Linked DNA regions of Homo sapiens: region 2 is linked to region 1. A link means that fine-mapping ties the variant in region 1 to the expression of a gene that starts in the linked region. Tissue or cell type: thyroid. Region 1 holds a variant in brackets; the other region holds the start of a gene. All regions are shown on one strand. Distances are from middle to middle.

The links. PIP is the estimated chance that this variant, and not a neighbour inherited with it, causes the effect.
Region 2: SELENBP1 starts here. The variant in region 1 is fine-mapped to the expression of SELENBP1 in thyroid (GTEx, PIP 0.95).

Annotation. Positions count from the first base shown.
Region 1 is chr1:151,457,861-151,465,964 of GRCh38, reverse strand. POGZ (pogo transposable element derived with ZNF domain) reads left to right here and starts at 6,471. Exons shown (of 19, transcript NM_015100.4): 1 at 6,471-6,813. RefSeq lists an enhancer at 6,201-6,250 and silencers at 7,081-7,130, 7,321-7,370. The variant T/C (reference allele first, on the strand shown) is at 3,282.
Region 2 is chr1:151,369,323-151,377,426 of GRCh38, reverse strand. It overlaps SELENBP1 (selenium binding protein 1), which reads left to right and starts at 4,722. Exons shown (of 12, transcript NM_003944.4): 1 at 4,722-4,789; 2 at 7,658-7,714; 3 at 7,873-7,985. The coding sequence starts at 4,786. RefSeq lists enhancers at 4,201-4,784, 4,785-5,368, 6,115-6,785, 6,786-7,457.

The DNA.
Region 1 (8,104 bases):
ATTGTACATATTCAGTAATAAGAGAAGACCCAAACGGACCTGACCACTTATCTACACCAGAAACCTTTAAAAAATTTAATCCTGGCCAACATGGTGAAACCCTAGCTCTACTAAAAATACAAAAATTAGCCAGGCATGGTGGCGGGCACCTGTAATCCCAGCTACTCGGGAGGCCGAGGCAGCAGAATCACTTGAACTGGGGAGACGGAGGCTGCAGTGACCCGAGATTGCACCACTGCACTCCAGCCTGGGCAACAAAGCAAGACTCTGCCTGAAAAAAAAAAATTAATTCTGAATGATACCTCAGTCTTCTCATCTGTAAAACAATGATATTAATCATCATGTCCTTCAAAAATATGAATTGGAAAAGCTATTTACTGTCCACAGTTGCATTCTGAAAATTATGCATGACTATAATAAAATATAAACACTGCTAAATTTAAAAAGAATGTATGCTAGAGGAAAAGGAATTTTTACTACATTTTACTCTGCAATCCATTATCAGGAACAAGTCATATATCAAGCATACCTATAAAATAGTCCAATTTATTTTGTCATGAAGCTTTATGGAGTCAATTTAATTACTTGATAATCATACCTGGTCAACTCCATAGCAACAACCTAGATTAGACAAGTATAGCTTTGCTTCTGGGTATCTCTTTAAAATATTAATTTAATTCGAAGTTAAACTACATCATTACCTCCTAGGAAACCATGCAGCAACTCACAGTGAGCTCTTGATGATGATAACACTGCTGCTCATGCATTTCTTATGAAATATATTTTGAAGACAGAGATCTTAATTGCTTCTTACTGAAAGCTAATGGGAATTCTTCCTTTAGAAACCCAGGCTGAGAACTTCCTCAGGCTTTTTCTCACCTCCTGTGTCTCTAGGAAAGTCCCCAACTCTTCTAAACATAAGAAGGTAGCAAATAATATTCCTAAATAAAATCCGGCCACAGCTGTTAACTTCCCCATTTTTTAATTTGACATTGGTCAAATGTAGATCTCCACTTGCCCTTTATTTCATGGCAATTTGCCTGTCAAGTTAAGCACCTCAATGTTTTCCTTCCACCACACATGCTGACTTATACACATGCTGAATCCCAGGCTCAGTGCAATCAGCTATCCATCTTTTCCACCTGGGAGCTGCTCAGATGGTAAAAATGTCTCTACTGTTTTTCTCTTACGTTTTCTGAAATGAGTAGCTCTCTTTGAGGTTCCAGCTTTGACAATCCTGAGTGTGCATTACAGAGAGTGGGATACCCATTTCTTTCTTTCTTTTTTTTTTTTTTTTTTGAGACGAAGTCTCACACTGTGGCCCGGGATGCTATGCAGTGGCGTGATCTCGGCTTGCTGCAGCCTTCGCTTCCCAGGTTCAAGCAATTCTCCTGTCTCAGCCTCCCAGGTAGCTGGGATTACAGGCATGCACTACCACACCCGGCTAATTTTTTGTATTTTTAGTAGAGACGGGGTTTCACTATTTTGGTCAGGCTGGTCTGAAACTCCTGACCTTGTGATCTGCCCACCTCCGCCTCCCAAAGTGTTGGGATTACAGGCGTGAGCCATCGTGTTCGGCTGTTACCCATTTCTTAAAGAAATCTGGCATTATCTCCCACGAAGCTTATTTCTGCCTGGACTAACCTCACCATCTGAGCCTCCCTACTCCCCGCCCAAACACATACCAGTCAACCTCACGCTGAACCTGAACAATAAGTGATTAGGTCTGCATTTTAGCAAAATGATGCCACCGAGGGCATCCATGACTCAATGCTTTTGAAGACATGCTGAAATCATTTGTCTCTCTTCTTTAACATTCTCCAAGCTACAGGTGGTTCCAATTTTCTTTTGTATGTTTTGTTGTTGTTGTTTGTTTGTTTGTTTTTTGATGGAGTTTCACTCTTCTTGCCCAGGCTGGAGTGCAATGGTGCAATCCTGGCTCGGTGCAATCCTGGCTCACTGCAGCCTCCACCTCCTGGGTTCAAGTGATTCTCCTGCTTCAGCCTCCCAAATAGCTGAGATTACAGGCGCGTTCCACCACGCCTGGCTAATTTTTTGTATTTTTAGTAGAGATGGGGTTTCACCATCTCTACTAAAGACCTTTGGCCAGGCTGGTCTTGAACTCCAGACCTCAGGTGATCTGCCTGCCTTGGCCTCCCAAAGTGCTGGGATTACAGGCATGAGCCACCGTGCCCAGCCCCAATTTTCAACTTGTGGCAGAAACCGTAAGTCAAGGAAGCAAGTAAGTATTTCCATAAACTGTAGAAAAGAAACACTCTCCAGCTATGTAACTGAAAAGCTCAGCTTGGGACATCCATTAACCTTTGACTTTCTTTCTTAGAAAAAGTTTCTAAGTTGGCTACTGAAGACTGGAATAATTTTTAGGAGTACCACTATTAGGATCAAATTTCTTCAACATATCAGACTGGATTGGCTTTCAGATTCCTCCCCAGTATGTTACAGAGGCACATACGAGTTGATTTCTAAGGATCTGATTCAGGTTATTTGTTCTACTACTTGGGTTTCCCATCATCATCAAGATGGTTCAAACCATTATCCAGATGGTCCAAAAGAGAGACCAAAGCTATCAGTTCTGTTACTTCACTCTGGAAACCTGTGTTTTAGCTGAAGAAGCAAAATGTTCCAACACTGTCCAAATTAATATGAGCATTCTCTCTTTAGCACAAGGAATACGTTTCTGGAAATAGCAGTGTTAACTGTATAGTCTCTTTTGAAGTGCTGCACCAGTGTTGTAATGTAAGGTGGCAGAGTTTCCTTGAAATCTTCTGAAGGTATAAAATGTCTTTGCTCATCATTTCCTTTTTTTTTTTTTTTCTTTGAGATGGAGTCTCACTCTGTCACCCAGGCTGGAGTGATGTGGTGTGATCTCGGCTCACTGCAACCTCCACCTCCCGGGTTCAAGCGATTCTCCTGCCTCAGCCTCCTGAGTAGCTAGGACTACAGGCATGTGCCACCACGCCTGGCTAATTTTTGTATTTTTAGTAGAGATGGGGTTTCACCATGTTGGCCAGGCTGGTCTCAAACTCCTGATCTTGTAATCCACCCACCTCGGCCTCCCAAAGTGCTGGGATTACAGGCATGAGCCACCACACCTGGCCAGGATACCTTTTACAACGTCAAAAGACACTCCATTCCCTAATTGCCTGTTGATCTTTACCCTCTGTTTCCTCACCCATTTCCTCAAAGGTGCCTCCAGATCCTGCAAAACTCCCACTTTTACATTTAGCATGATAGACTTTCTGTATTCTTGGTGGCAGGCA[T/C]AGCACCATCACTCATTTTATTGGGCATTATGGGTCAAAACTGTCTCCCAGGGCACAAACTAAATGACAGAAAAATAGAGAGGAGTAAGTAACACACCACAGAACTCAATCACCTGAAGCAGCAGCTTCACAACTCCCATCCTGGTCCAAGCTACCATCAACTCTCACCTGGATTATTGCAATAGCCTTCTATCTGGTCTCCCTGCATCTGCCCTTGCCTCTATTAGTTATTCTTCACAAGCAGCCACAGTGATCCTTTAAAAACGTGAGTCAGGCCGTGTCACTACTTGCTTTATGATCCTCCAGCAGCTTCATTTTCACTACAGGTAAAACCTAAACTTTGCTTCACTTTCTTCAGGTCTTTGCCCAAATGTCACCTTAACAAGGACTTCTCCAATCACCCCACATAAAATAGCAAATTCTCCACCCCCATGTCTGCACCACACTCCTAATTCCCCTATCCTGCCCTTTACCCTTCATAGCACCTATCACCATTTCATATAATCCATATTTATTTACATAATGTATATCAGATTGCATTTTCCAAGATGGCCACAAGATTTCCCTTTCCGCACACTTTCTTACAATGTGACATTTCCACTATTCCCGTTGAGAGATGGGGATCTATGCTCTCCATCCTGTAACTGTAATGGAAGTAACACTATATGACCTCTGAGACTAGGTCACGATCTCTGTCTGGTCCTTTTGGGGCACTCAGTCTTGGAACTCAGCCACTATGATATGAGGAAGCCCAGGCTACATGGAGAAGCCACTTGTAAATGGTCTGCCAACAACCCCAGCTGCGGTCCAAGCCAACAGTCAACCTCAACTTCCAGACATGTAAGGAAGCTTTTGAGATTACTTCAGCCCTAGCCACTGCATACGAGACTCCCAAGTGAGAACTGTTTAGCTGAGCCTAATTACCTCCCAGAACCATGAGAGGTAATGAAATTGTTGTTTTAAGCCACTAAGTTCGGGGTCATTTGTTATTTAACAATAGACAATAGAACAATTTGTTTATGTGTATATTTTATGTCTCTTTCCTTCTAGAGTATAAATCCCACAGATTCAGGTATTTGTTGTTGTTGTTGCTGCTGTATTCCCAGCACCTAAAACAGTGCCTAGTACATGTGCTCAATAATTTTTTTTTTTTTTTTGAGACAGGATCTTGCTCTGTCCCTCCCAGGCTAGAGTGCAAGTAGTGTCATCATAGCTCACTGCAGTCTCAAACTCCTGGCCTCAAGTGATCCTCCCAAGTCTTCCAAGTATCTAGGAATACCACAACCAGCTAATGAAAAAAATTTTTTGGGGCCAGGCACGGTGGCTCACGCCTGTAATCCCAGCGCTTTGGGAGGCGGAGGCGGGCAGATCACGAGGTCAGGAGTTCGAGACCAGCCTGCTTGGTGAAACCCCGTCTCTACTAAAAACAGAAAAAATTAGCCAGGCATCGTGGCGCACGCCTGTAGTCCCAGCTACTCAGGAGGCTGAGGCAGGAGAATTGCACCCAGCAGGCGGAGGTTGCAGTGAGCCGAGATCGCGCCACTTCACTCCAGCCTGGGGGAGAGAGCGAGACTCTGTTTAAAAAAAAAAAATTTTTTTTTGTAGAGATGGGATGTTGCTAAGTTGCCCAGGCTGCCCTCAGACTGCTGTGATCCTCCTCCCTTGGCCTTCCAAAGTGTTGGGATTACAGGTGTTAGCCACCATGCCCAGCCCCCAATAAATATTCATTGAATGAATGAATGGATGCATGATCCATTTTCAATAAAGCATGCTAACAGTTACTGGTCAACGGTATATGGCATAGTCTGCGCTAGATCTCATTGGCTGGGAGAATAAATTGACAGGGCATGGGGAAATATGTTGGAATTTTTCAAAGGTTAATAACGTAATATACATAATGTAAATATAACATATATAATGAATTATACTAATTACACGACAGTATAAAATAGGATTTGAGTTTCATGTAGTCTTTTGGTGATTGATCCCATAATCCTAATATGGGCTTCTCCAGATCAGGTCTGGAAAGTCTTCAGAAGTATTTTCAGAAGGATTTAGTGATTCTTCTCATTCAAATAATGAAGTCCTTCCTAAGCATCCTACACTAGTGGAAATCACTCACATGGTTTTGGTATGAAATGGAATGAAACTGGGTGGTGGCAGTGTGTGTATGTGTATGCACATGTGCACACTCACACGGGCAGGTGCATACAATTTGGAATGCCTACTTCCACTGCCTATTTTCAGTCTGGTGGTTTGAATGGAGTGTGTATATAAAGAGCACAAATAAACATAGTTCTGGATTTCCCCTTTCTGCACCAAGTACCTTGATTTCACATTTGGTTTGAAGCAAATATTTGTGTATTGCTTAAATAGCAAACATTTTCAAATATTCAAGGAAAATATTACATTTTTATAATCTCAGAAGGCAATAAAGGACAAAATTTCTTAGCTACCTGAAAAGAGGTAGTTTTTGTCTGGGGAAGAATAAACAGGTGGATGGTCGTTTGAGTGGACTAACCAATTTCTTTGAGCCAACCCATCTCAGCCTTGATTGGAGCAAAAAGCATAAGGATGTGGAGTGTGTGTGGTTTCTTGGAACTGGGGATCTCTGCTGAATCTACTCACAATGGGAGCAAAGCAGTTTCCATCACAATAATCGCTTTAACAATCGTGTGCCACTTCTTTCCAGGATCCAGAAGGGCTTGAGGATCAAAATGGCTTTTAAAAGTTCTTCACTTAAACAAGGCCGCAGCCACAAGGTTACTTGGCCGAGTGTCTCTTGAGAAAGAGTGAGTGCCATTTTGTTCTTTGTTCCAATGACAGTTGTTGGTGCCACTGGGCCTCACCACCTGGCCTGTGTCATGAAGTCTCCCTCTTGACTGGGTCTAAGCCTTGAGTGGAAAGTGGGGGAGCCTCCCAACACTTCCTTGGAAACTCTTGGCAAGTAAATTGGGGAATATTTTCTTTGGAAGTCTCATTTTTCTCACCAAAATTTAGATATAGCTTCTGAAGCTAATTATTCTTTTTTCATTACAAAAAATGTTTTCCTTTATTTATTTATTTGCAGGCCCAGCCAAACTTGACTAGAAAAGAAGCCCGGGCAGGGGTTTGGATGAGCCCATGACGTGCAGCGCGCTCCGACCAATTGGGAGGCCGTGAAAAAGGGGAGGGCGGAAGTGACGAGCCGTATCCCTCCGCGGGGCGAGAGGGTCGGTGGGGGGAGTCGGCGTCTCTCTCCCCCGCGCCAGCTCCCGTACACGGAGCCGCATTCCTTGGCCCCCCCACCCCCCTCCCTCGGGGCCCCCCCGCCCCCCTCGGGAAAAAAATCCACCCCGAATCACTCGAACCCGAGGGAGGCTTCCTTTCACCCTTGGGGAGACGAGCTTTCAACGGTTACCTCTTCTTCGTCTCCCCCCAAGCCCCCGTCCCCTCCCCCTGCTCCCACCCCCTTCTGGCGCCGGGTGTAAGGTCCCTTTAAGGCGACGGCGCCTTCCTCGGGTCAGACTACCGGCGGCGACGACCACAGGAGGTGAGTGAGCGAGCGAGCCTTCTCTCTCCCCACCCCCTGCTCCCGGGGGTTCCGTTATCTTTTCGCTCGGCGAGGCGTTCAGAGGCGAGACAATGAGAGGGGGATGGGGCCGGTACGCGCGGGGGTGGGGGCGGGGGGCCGGCGGTGCGCGCCCCCGCCCACCGCGAGTGGCGGCGCGGCCCGCGGCAGGGGCGGCCGCGGGGTGCGGCGCGCGAGCGCGAGTGTGTGTGCGTGCGCCCCGGGCCGCGGGAGCCGCGCGAAGGGCCGGCGGCGGAGGTCCCTGCCTGCCGGCTGGCCGGCCGCCCCCGCCCCCCGGCGCCCGCCGCGGCGCGCGCGCGCGCACTCGCGCCCCACGGCCCCGCACACAGCCCGACGTCCACACGCACGCTCGGCGCGAGGCGTCTCGGAGGAGTGGGCGGCGCGGGCGCGGGCGGTGGCCCGCTGGGGAAGGGGCGGGGGCGGGGGCGCGGGCGGTGGCGAGACGGCGGGGCGCGGCGGGAGGGGCCGGCGAGGGGGCGAGGCCGTGCGGCGGAGGGGCGGGCGGCGGCGGAGCGGCCCCTGGGGGTGGGGGTGCGCGGCCCTCCCCGCCCCATTCCCGCTCCGAGAAGGAGTGGGGCGCTCGTTTTGAGCGGGAGGAGGAAAATGAGTGATTGCTGAGCCGATCCCTTGTGTTATGTAATCTCTGCTTGGTCTAATAGTACATCCTAAGCCTTAGTGCACTGCAGCTAGTTTACGAAGTCTCCTCCCTCGGTCCCCAAATTTCTTTTGGGATGGCGCCGTGATTTATAAAATGGAATGAGGCGGGGAATCTTTATTTTCTGGTGATTATGTCCTGCCGCGGTGGGCGCCATGTTTATCCCGGGGACTATTTTATTTAGATTCTTGGCACCTTTTGCAAAGGAGTACTGTCATTGATCTATTTGTTTTCCGTCTTTCTGCGTGTTGTTCTTATTTCCTTCCTCTCCAGATGTGGGATTCTCTCAAACTGCTAGTAGCACTTGTCTTAGACATTCTTAGTTCAGAAAAAGGTAGTGCTGATGAGTCCTTAGAGTCATTTAGTGGCCAGTCTCATTTTCGAAATGGAAACTAAGATGCAGTTGGACTATCTCACAGCAGCCGCCGTCTTGATGCAAGCGGTGTAGCCCGTCCTTCCAAGCCCGTAGACACCTCTTACCGCCGCTCAAAACTCCACAGAAATGGGGTTTTACTTTTTTTTTTTTTTTTGAGACGAAGTTTCACTCTTGTCGCCCAGGCTGGTGTGCAGTGGCACGATCTCTGCTCACTGCAACCT
Region 2 (8,104 bases), 89 kb after region 1:
CCTTTCCTTTTTTTTTTTTTAGGAGATGAGAGTCTTGCTATGTTGTCCTGTCTGGACTCAAACTCCTGGGCTTGAGTGATCCTCCCACCTCAGCCTCCTGAATAGCTGGGACCACAGGTAATTTTTTTTTCATAGAGACGGGGTCTCCCTATGTTGCTCAGGCTGGTCTTGAACTCCCTGGCTCAAGCAATCCTCTTGCCTCAGCCTTTCAAAGTGCTGGGATTACAGGAGTGAGCCACCATACCCAATTCAGAATTCCTATTTTAAAGAGATATATTCTGAAACATTAAAGCAATGTTTCAAAAAAATTCAGGGTGGAGGGAGGCTACAGGCTAGGAGGCATAACTGAAACAAAATGGCTTATAATTTTTTTTTTTTTTTTTTTAGATGGAGCCTCCTCTGTCGCCCAGGCTGGAGTGCAGTGGCATGATCACAGCTTGCTGCAGCTTCCACCTCCCAGGCTCAAGTGATCCTCCTCCTTAGCCTCCCGAGTAGCTGGGACTGCAGGTGCACACCACCACACCTGGCTCATTTTTGTAATTTTTGTAGAGAAAGTGTTTCACTATGTTGCCCAGGCTGGTCTTGAACTCCTGAGCTCAAGGGATCCACCTGCCTCAGCCTCCCAAAGTGCTAGAATTACAAGTGTGAGCCACCTCACTGTTTATTCTTCCTTCTCTTTAAGCAATAGAGGTAAGGAGTCAAGACGATAACATTTGCTTTTTAAACACCTTCTGTCCCCAACCTTAGCATCTCCCTGGATATGATAGGCCCCCAGCCACTCTTCAGTGCTGCCCACTGGGACACAGGCTTCTGATAAAACTGAGTGGCGCTGCAGTACTAGGAGCTTAAAGGGTTACCACTCCAGAGACATTCACTGTAGCCAGGAGGTGAGAAGAGGCCATCTGGTAGTAACACAAAGAAATAAACTGCTATTGGTGAAGTTTCAAGCATCAATGGCAGGCCAAAGGGAGGATATTTCTGAGTGGATTGGCAGTGAGGAGAAAGTCCTCCAAGTGGTTCTCAAATCATGCTTTTTATAGACAGCCCTGGCAGAGGGCATTAAAAAAAATTATTTCAGCCGGGCGCGGTGGCTCACGCCTGTAATCCCAGCACTTTGGGAGGCCGAGGCAGGCAGATCACGAGGTCAGGAGATAGAGACCATCCTGGCTAACACGGTGAAACCCCGTCTCTACTAAAAATATGAAAAATTAGCCAGGCGTGGTGGCAGGCACCTGTAGTCCCAGCTACTCGAGAGGCTGAGGCATGAGGATGGCGTGAACCTAGGACATGGAACATGCAGTGAGCCAAGACCTTGCCACTGCACTCCAGCCTGGGTGACAGAGTGACGTTCCGTCTCAAAAAAAAAAATTATTTCTCTTCTCTGAGCCATGTTATTACCCTGAGCAGCAGGCTTTGAACTCACTGTCATTCAGAAACAGTGCATTAAGTGTGGGCAACGGAGTGAATTGGGAAAACTCTGTTTCCTGAATGTAAGATGAAGAAAAAGGCATTTACAGGCCAGACACGGTGGCTCACACCTGTAATCCCAGCACTTTGGGAGGCCAATGCGGGTAGATCACAAGGTCAGGAGTTTGAGACCAGCCTGGCCATATGGTGAAACCCCATCTCTATTAAAAAGTACAAAAATTAGCTGGGCGTGGTAGCATGCGCCTGTAGTCCCAGCTACTCAGGAGGCTGAGGCAGGAGAATCACTGGAACCTGGGAGGCGGAGGTTGCAGTGAACAGAGATCACGCCACTGCACTCCAGCCTGGCGACAGAGGGAGACTCTGTCTCAAAAAAAAAAAAAGAAAAGAAAGAAAAAGAAAAAGGCATTTAACCTCTCCAGCTGTGCCATGGGCGGAACCTGAGCTAATTGTTAGTGTGTAGGGCCCGGCATGGCGCCCGTCACCTCTAGTAGCAGGTTCTCAGTAAACGCTACTCCCTTCACATCTCCTACACATCCCTGAGGGTATGGAGTTGGTCTGTTAATATAAGGAGAAATGAGCAGAACAGGGCTCTGAAACTCTACTTAGCTGGTGAAAACTCCAACCTCTCCAGCCAGTCCTGCCTCAGACCTCCATGGGCTGCTACCTTTATGCCTTACAGGCATTTTGTGCACGTTTGTGCTTTTTGGTTTGTTTGTTTTAGTTCTTTTGTACTGTTTGTTTGCATATAATTCTGTACCCATACATACCAAGCAACCCCACCTAATGCTGCATCACCCCTACATTACCCTACTCCTTCACAGCACTTATCTGAAGTGATTTTATTTATTTGTGTATTTGCATGATTATCAGTCATCTCCCCTAAAAAGTCATCTCCATGAAGGTAGCAACTTTGCCCTGTTCACCACTTTGTCTACCATATCTGGCTCAAAAGAGGTGCTCCAGAGGGAAGGATAGGCAGCTGGTTGGGAGAGCTGTAGCTCAAAAGGGACCGGGGCCAGTCCTTCTCCCCAGCATGGGCCCTCACTGTGGCCCTCACCTGCACTGCATGTGACCTTCCATCCTTCCTTTCATCTTCCTTATAGTTTTTCTTTTAATATATTTATTTGAGCTTTTAGTTACAAAAGCAGTACTTATTATTTTTTTAAAAATCCAAAATTAACTTTGGGAGACCAAGGCAGATCACTTGAGCCCAAGAGTCTGAGACCAGTCTGGGCAACATAGTGAGACCCCCCATCTCTACAAAAAAAATTTAAAAATTATCCAGGTCAGCCAGGCACGGTGTCTCAGGCCTGTAATCCCAGCACTTTGGGAGGCGGAGGTGGGTGGATCACTTGAGGTCAGGAGTTCGAGACCAGCCTGTCCAACATGGTGAAACCCCGTCTCTACTAAAAATACAAAAATGAGCCAGGTATGGTTGTGGGCACCTGTAGTCCCAGCTACTCGGGAGGCTGAGGCAGGAGAATCGCCCCTCTACCTTTACTGCCTCCCTCTGTAGCCCAGATTAGGATAACTTCCCCAACCACCTGCTGGCTGTAGAGCAAGAGTTCAGGGAGAAAACCACAGGCAGAGGTGAGGGGTGCCATGGAGTTGCTGCAGAGACCAGCCAGGTCAGAGCTCAGGAGCATGAAAGAGGTAGTCAATGACAGACCACAACAAACAAAATAACAGCCTTTTTTTTTTTAAGTTAATGACTCAATAATTTTTTATGAGAAGGTGGGGATAAAGTTTCTTTCTCTTTCAGATCTTGGGTGGTGGACTAACCCAAGCCAAGAAGCCGGAGAATAGAGAGGAGGCAGGAGATGGAGACCTCAGGAGGAGGAAGAGGGGAGGGCCAGAGGGAAGGGTGAAGGCAGGGTGAGTGGAGGTAGTCAGGACAGGAGGAAGCTGGCAAAGACAAGGAAGCAGCCTTCAGGGCCTTCCCCGTGGGGCAGCTGCACACACAAGACTCTCTTTGATGCCTGGCAGGCTGATGGCACAATGGTGAGGATAATAGATGCAGGATGGAGCCAAGAGGGGTTGAGTGGCGCTGGGGATAAGAGAAGACCCTTGCCCCGGGCAGCCACAGGGAGTCTTCCTTGATGGGCACATGATCCCTCACTGATGGGAGCCAGGAAGACAGATACCCAATGCACCAAGGCCCAATTTTGCTCCCCTTCCCCCACTCTGGTTTGGAAACCCTGTATTCTACTTGCAATCTCAAGCCCAGACTTTATTCTTTTTCCTAGCCAATAAAAACTTCACCCCAGAGCTTTTATCCAAAGAGTATGAATATCTGGAATAAGAGGGCAATCTTAGGGAAGAAGTGACCCTGGCTGATGGGCCCACAGTCCCGGGTGCCCCTAAATGCTAAGAGACAGGTCCAAATACAAAGACGAGCATTTGGAGACACAGGAACACATACGTGCGCAGGCTTACACAAGCACATGCACAGCCACATAGCCACACACTACACATACACAAGCACTTATGCACATGTCCACACAGGCGTAGATACTCTAGCAAGCACATACTCACAGAGGCGCGCACACACACACACACACACACACAGGCGTAGATACTCTGGTAGGCACATACAGAGGCGCGCACACACACACACGCACAAATACACACAAGCACACTCACAGGCACATTCACACACGTGGAAATTCACACACAGGCACAGATACACACTCATGCAGGCACGTGCACGAGCAACACGCAGGTATACAGGAACACACACATGCCCAGACACACAAATCCACACACACCCAGGCACCCACTAAAGAGCACGAGCTGGTCAGGGGCAGCGGCTCACACCTGTGATCCCAGCACTTTGGGAGGCCGACACGGGTGGATCACCTGAGGTCAGGAGTTTGAGACCAGCCTGGCCAACATGGTGAAATCCCTTCTCTACTAAAAATACAAAATTGCTGGGCATGGTGGTGGGTGCCTGTAATCCCAGCTACTCGGGAGGATGAGGCAGGAGAATCACTTGAACCCAGGAGGCAGAGGTTGCAGTGAGCCGAGATCGCACCACTGCACTCCAGCCTGGGCAAGAGTGAGACCCTGTCTCTAAATAAATAAATAAATAAATAAAGCACAGGCTCCCACACATACACACTTAAACACATACACGCACACCCCATAATTCAAACACCAGTTGCCCTAGGCCACTTGAGAGTATCCTGGCCAGCTGCCCTGAGTAGTTTACTCTGGGCTACAGCCCGGGCCCTCCTCCTTCTCTGCCCCACCCCCAGCTGGTTGTATAAATTCCCTCCCTTCGCTCCTTCCCCGGAACAGCGGCCTCTGACACCAGCACAGCAAACCCGCCGGGATCAAAGTGTACCAGTCGGCAGCATGGGTAAGGAGAGGGGTTTCCAATCACCCATTGCCTGCTCTGTCTGCCCCTAATTTGGAAGGCCCTCCTCCAGAAAATGCTAGAAAACCTGAGTGGGGAGCTGGGGAGGGAGTAGTGGACTCTGCTTCATTGTCCCCAGTCTGCACACCCCCTCCCCCACCACCCCACTGCATTTCCCAGCTCAGCCAAACTTTCTGAGGAAGACGGGCAGAGGCACTGCTGGGAGATGGGATCCTGGGCCCTGACTTGGCTCCATCCAGCAGAGGCTGGGACCAGGGTGCCTTTCTGCAGCTGGGAAAATCAGATGGGCGCTCTTAGAAAACACCACTAGGTCCCTGGCCCTCACATAGTAGAGAGGTGATCCTGATTTCAGCCATGGGCCAACTTTGTACTCCAGCGAGGTAGGGAGTCCAAAGCCTTTCTGTGCCCAGGTCACTCTCTAGCTACTCCACACAGCAAAGCTCTCTGGGAGGGAAATCAGAGACCCCCACACTCTTTCACTGGGGACCTGTTTCAATGCCTCCCCCACCCCTAAATCCCCCTTGGCCCTGCTATTCCTCCATCTGTAGGCTTCTGGGTGACAGGCTAAGAAGGAACTGAGGTTTGGTTGGGAGGTCCTTCCCCGCTCGGGGCTGGCTCTTGAGCTGGCAGAATGCCGAGCTGGCAGAATGCCCAGCAGCCAGCCTGACATGGAAAACCCACTTGAGCTTTCCATGAGTCCATCCCAAACCCAAAGCTGCTCCGAGACCTTGCTTGAGATGTTTCAGATGGGGGTATTCCCCAGAAAGAGGAATGATGCTCCCTGGGGCTGCAGTGGCATGCCAGGCCTGACCCTAAGAAATGCTGGGGCTGGGGTTGCTGGGGTGTGGGGTGGGCCGAGGCTGCAGAGCGGGCAGCTCCATCTCTGCACTTTTACTTCCCTCTCAGCTTCTCCCTAGCTTTGTATTTTTTGTATCTCTGTCTTGAGGTCTTGGAGTTTTAAAATCTCCTTTCCCTTCTGTATCCAGCAACCTCCTTCCCCACCCCCTGTCATCTGGTGCCAAGCCCCGACTTAGCAAGATTGTGTAACAGAACCAGTCTCCTTAACTCCTGTGAACTGGACCTCTCTCTCTCTCCCTGCCCCACCTCCAGCCCTCTCGCTGGGCATCGAGCACTCCCTGGCATTCTCCTCTCCTCTGGCACAGCCCTTCCCATATTTACACAGTAATTCATTATTTTTTTTTTTTTTTAGTCAGAATTTCACTCTTGTTGCCCAGGCTGGAGTGACTGCAGTGGCGTGATTTCGGCTTACTGCAGCCTCCACCTCCCAGGTTCAAGTGATTCTCCTGCCTCAGCCTCCCAAGTAGCTGGGATTACAGGTGTATGCCTGTATTTTTTAATACAGGCTAATTTTTAATACAGGGTAATTTTTGTATTTTTAATAGAGACAGGGTTTTGCCATGTTAGTGAGGCTGGTCTCAAACTCCTGACCTTAGGTGATCTTTCCGCCTCAGCCTCCCAAAGTGCTGGGATTACAGGCATGAGCCACCGCACCCGGCCTAATTCATTTTTATGAAAGGCCTTTGGAATACATTGTCTTATTTGTCCTCCATATCTACCTAGCAAAGTAGGTAGAATATCATTATTGCCCACTTTTCGTAAATGAAGAGGAGAAAATGGAGAAACGGGGCGTCAAAACTGGGACTTGAAACCAGGTTTCCAGACTCTGAACGCTGTTGCTGCCTCTCAGCTTCCTAAGTCTCTTGGCTGCTGCGAGTGGGAGTCCCAGGCCCCAGTGGAGGCCCCACTCTGCCTACTCCTGGCTCCCCACTTGCGGCCCAGCTGTGAAGGCAGAGGCTGGACTGGCCACAGGACAAGGCAGGAGACAGGGCCCAGGCCTGTGGACTCCACTCCAGGGTTTCTTTCAGCCTGCCACCCCCTCTGGGTATTCTTTAACCCCTGCTCCCCAGCAGGCCCCAAACTCTGATGCTGGGGTGCTGGTAGCTGTGATGTCCCAGCCCTACTGCACATCTGCTGACTTACATCCTGGAGATTAGCATGGCCCCTCTTGCCAGACTTCAGAGATAGGGAGGGTTGCTCCCTATCTCTCTGGTGGGCAGGCCTCTGGGCTCTCCAGAGTTGGGCCAAACACCTTACTTTACAGATAAAGGAAGTGGGGCACACCCAGGGGTAGAAACCAGCCTGAGGACTTCCAGTTGGTATTAGCCCCAGACCCTCGGTTATGTAATCCAGCCCTTGGCTAGCAGCCTGGGATCAGGACCCAGGGGAGAGAAAAGCAGGAAGTGGCCTCCCCCTGATATAGAAGCATCTTGGTGAAGGGAGCTGAGCAGGCGCCACCCCACTCCCTGAGAGCAGCTCCTCAAGAACAGCCAAGGGTGCCTGGGCTTCGACCAGACAAACACAGAGCTGCACACCTACTGCACCCTCGTGTTTACTTCTCGTAAAAGCCCACTGTGAAATTCTTACCATCTCCATTTTACAGAGGATGCAGAAATTGAGGTCGAGGAGCTTCAGTACTTTGCCCAAGCTCCCCTGGCTAGTCAGTGGTGGGCTGGGGTTGGGCCCCGAGTCCGTGTCATATTCACTACACCACACGACCCCGGCTGCATCAGCCCTCCTCCCACCCTCCCGGGGCCCTGCTGGACTGTCTGTCCACCTTCAGGTCATGTGTCTCCAGCTCTTCCCAGCACAACCTCACCCTCCTCAGGGCTCTGAGGGGGCGGAGAGGACAGGCCAGAGCGATGAGGCTGGAGTGGGGACCTAGGCCAGCCGCACTGCCGTGGCCCGCTGGGATGTGTGCTGCAGAACGTGCGGAGGGAGCCTTCACCCTCCAGAGCGTGGCCCAGCCAATGCGCCCCATTGCTTCCACAGCTACGAAATGTGGGAATTGTGGACCCGGCTACTCCACCCCTCTGGAGGCCATGAAAGGTAATTGCCCATGGTCTGAGAGCCAGCGCCCTACTACTGATTCCACAGCTGGGGGTGGAGGGACTTCAGACCTAGCCCCCACCCTCTGGCACACCCAGCACTTCCCCTACCTTTCCTTCCCACCCTGCCGTCCCTGCTGCCTGCTTTCTACCGTGCAGGACCCAGGGAAGAGATCGTCTACCTGCCCTGCATTTACCGAAACACAGGCACTGAGGCCCCAGATTATCTGGCCACTGTGGATGTTGACCCCAAGTCTCCCCAGTATTGCCAGGTTAGGCGGGGCTTGGGCGCCAGCTACTTTGAGACCATAGCTGCCCTCATCCCTGGCCCTGGGCCCCCCCTTCCCAGCTCCATCCTTCTTGGCCCTCCCTGGGGATGCTTGTGCACGCT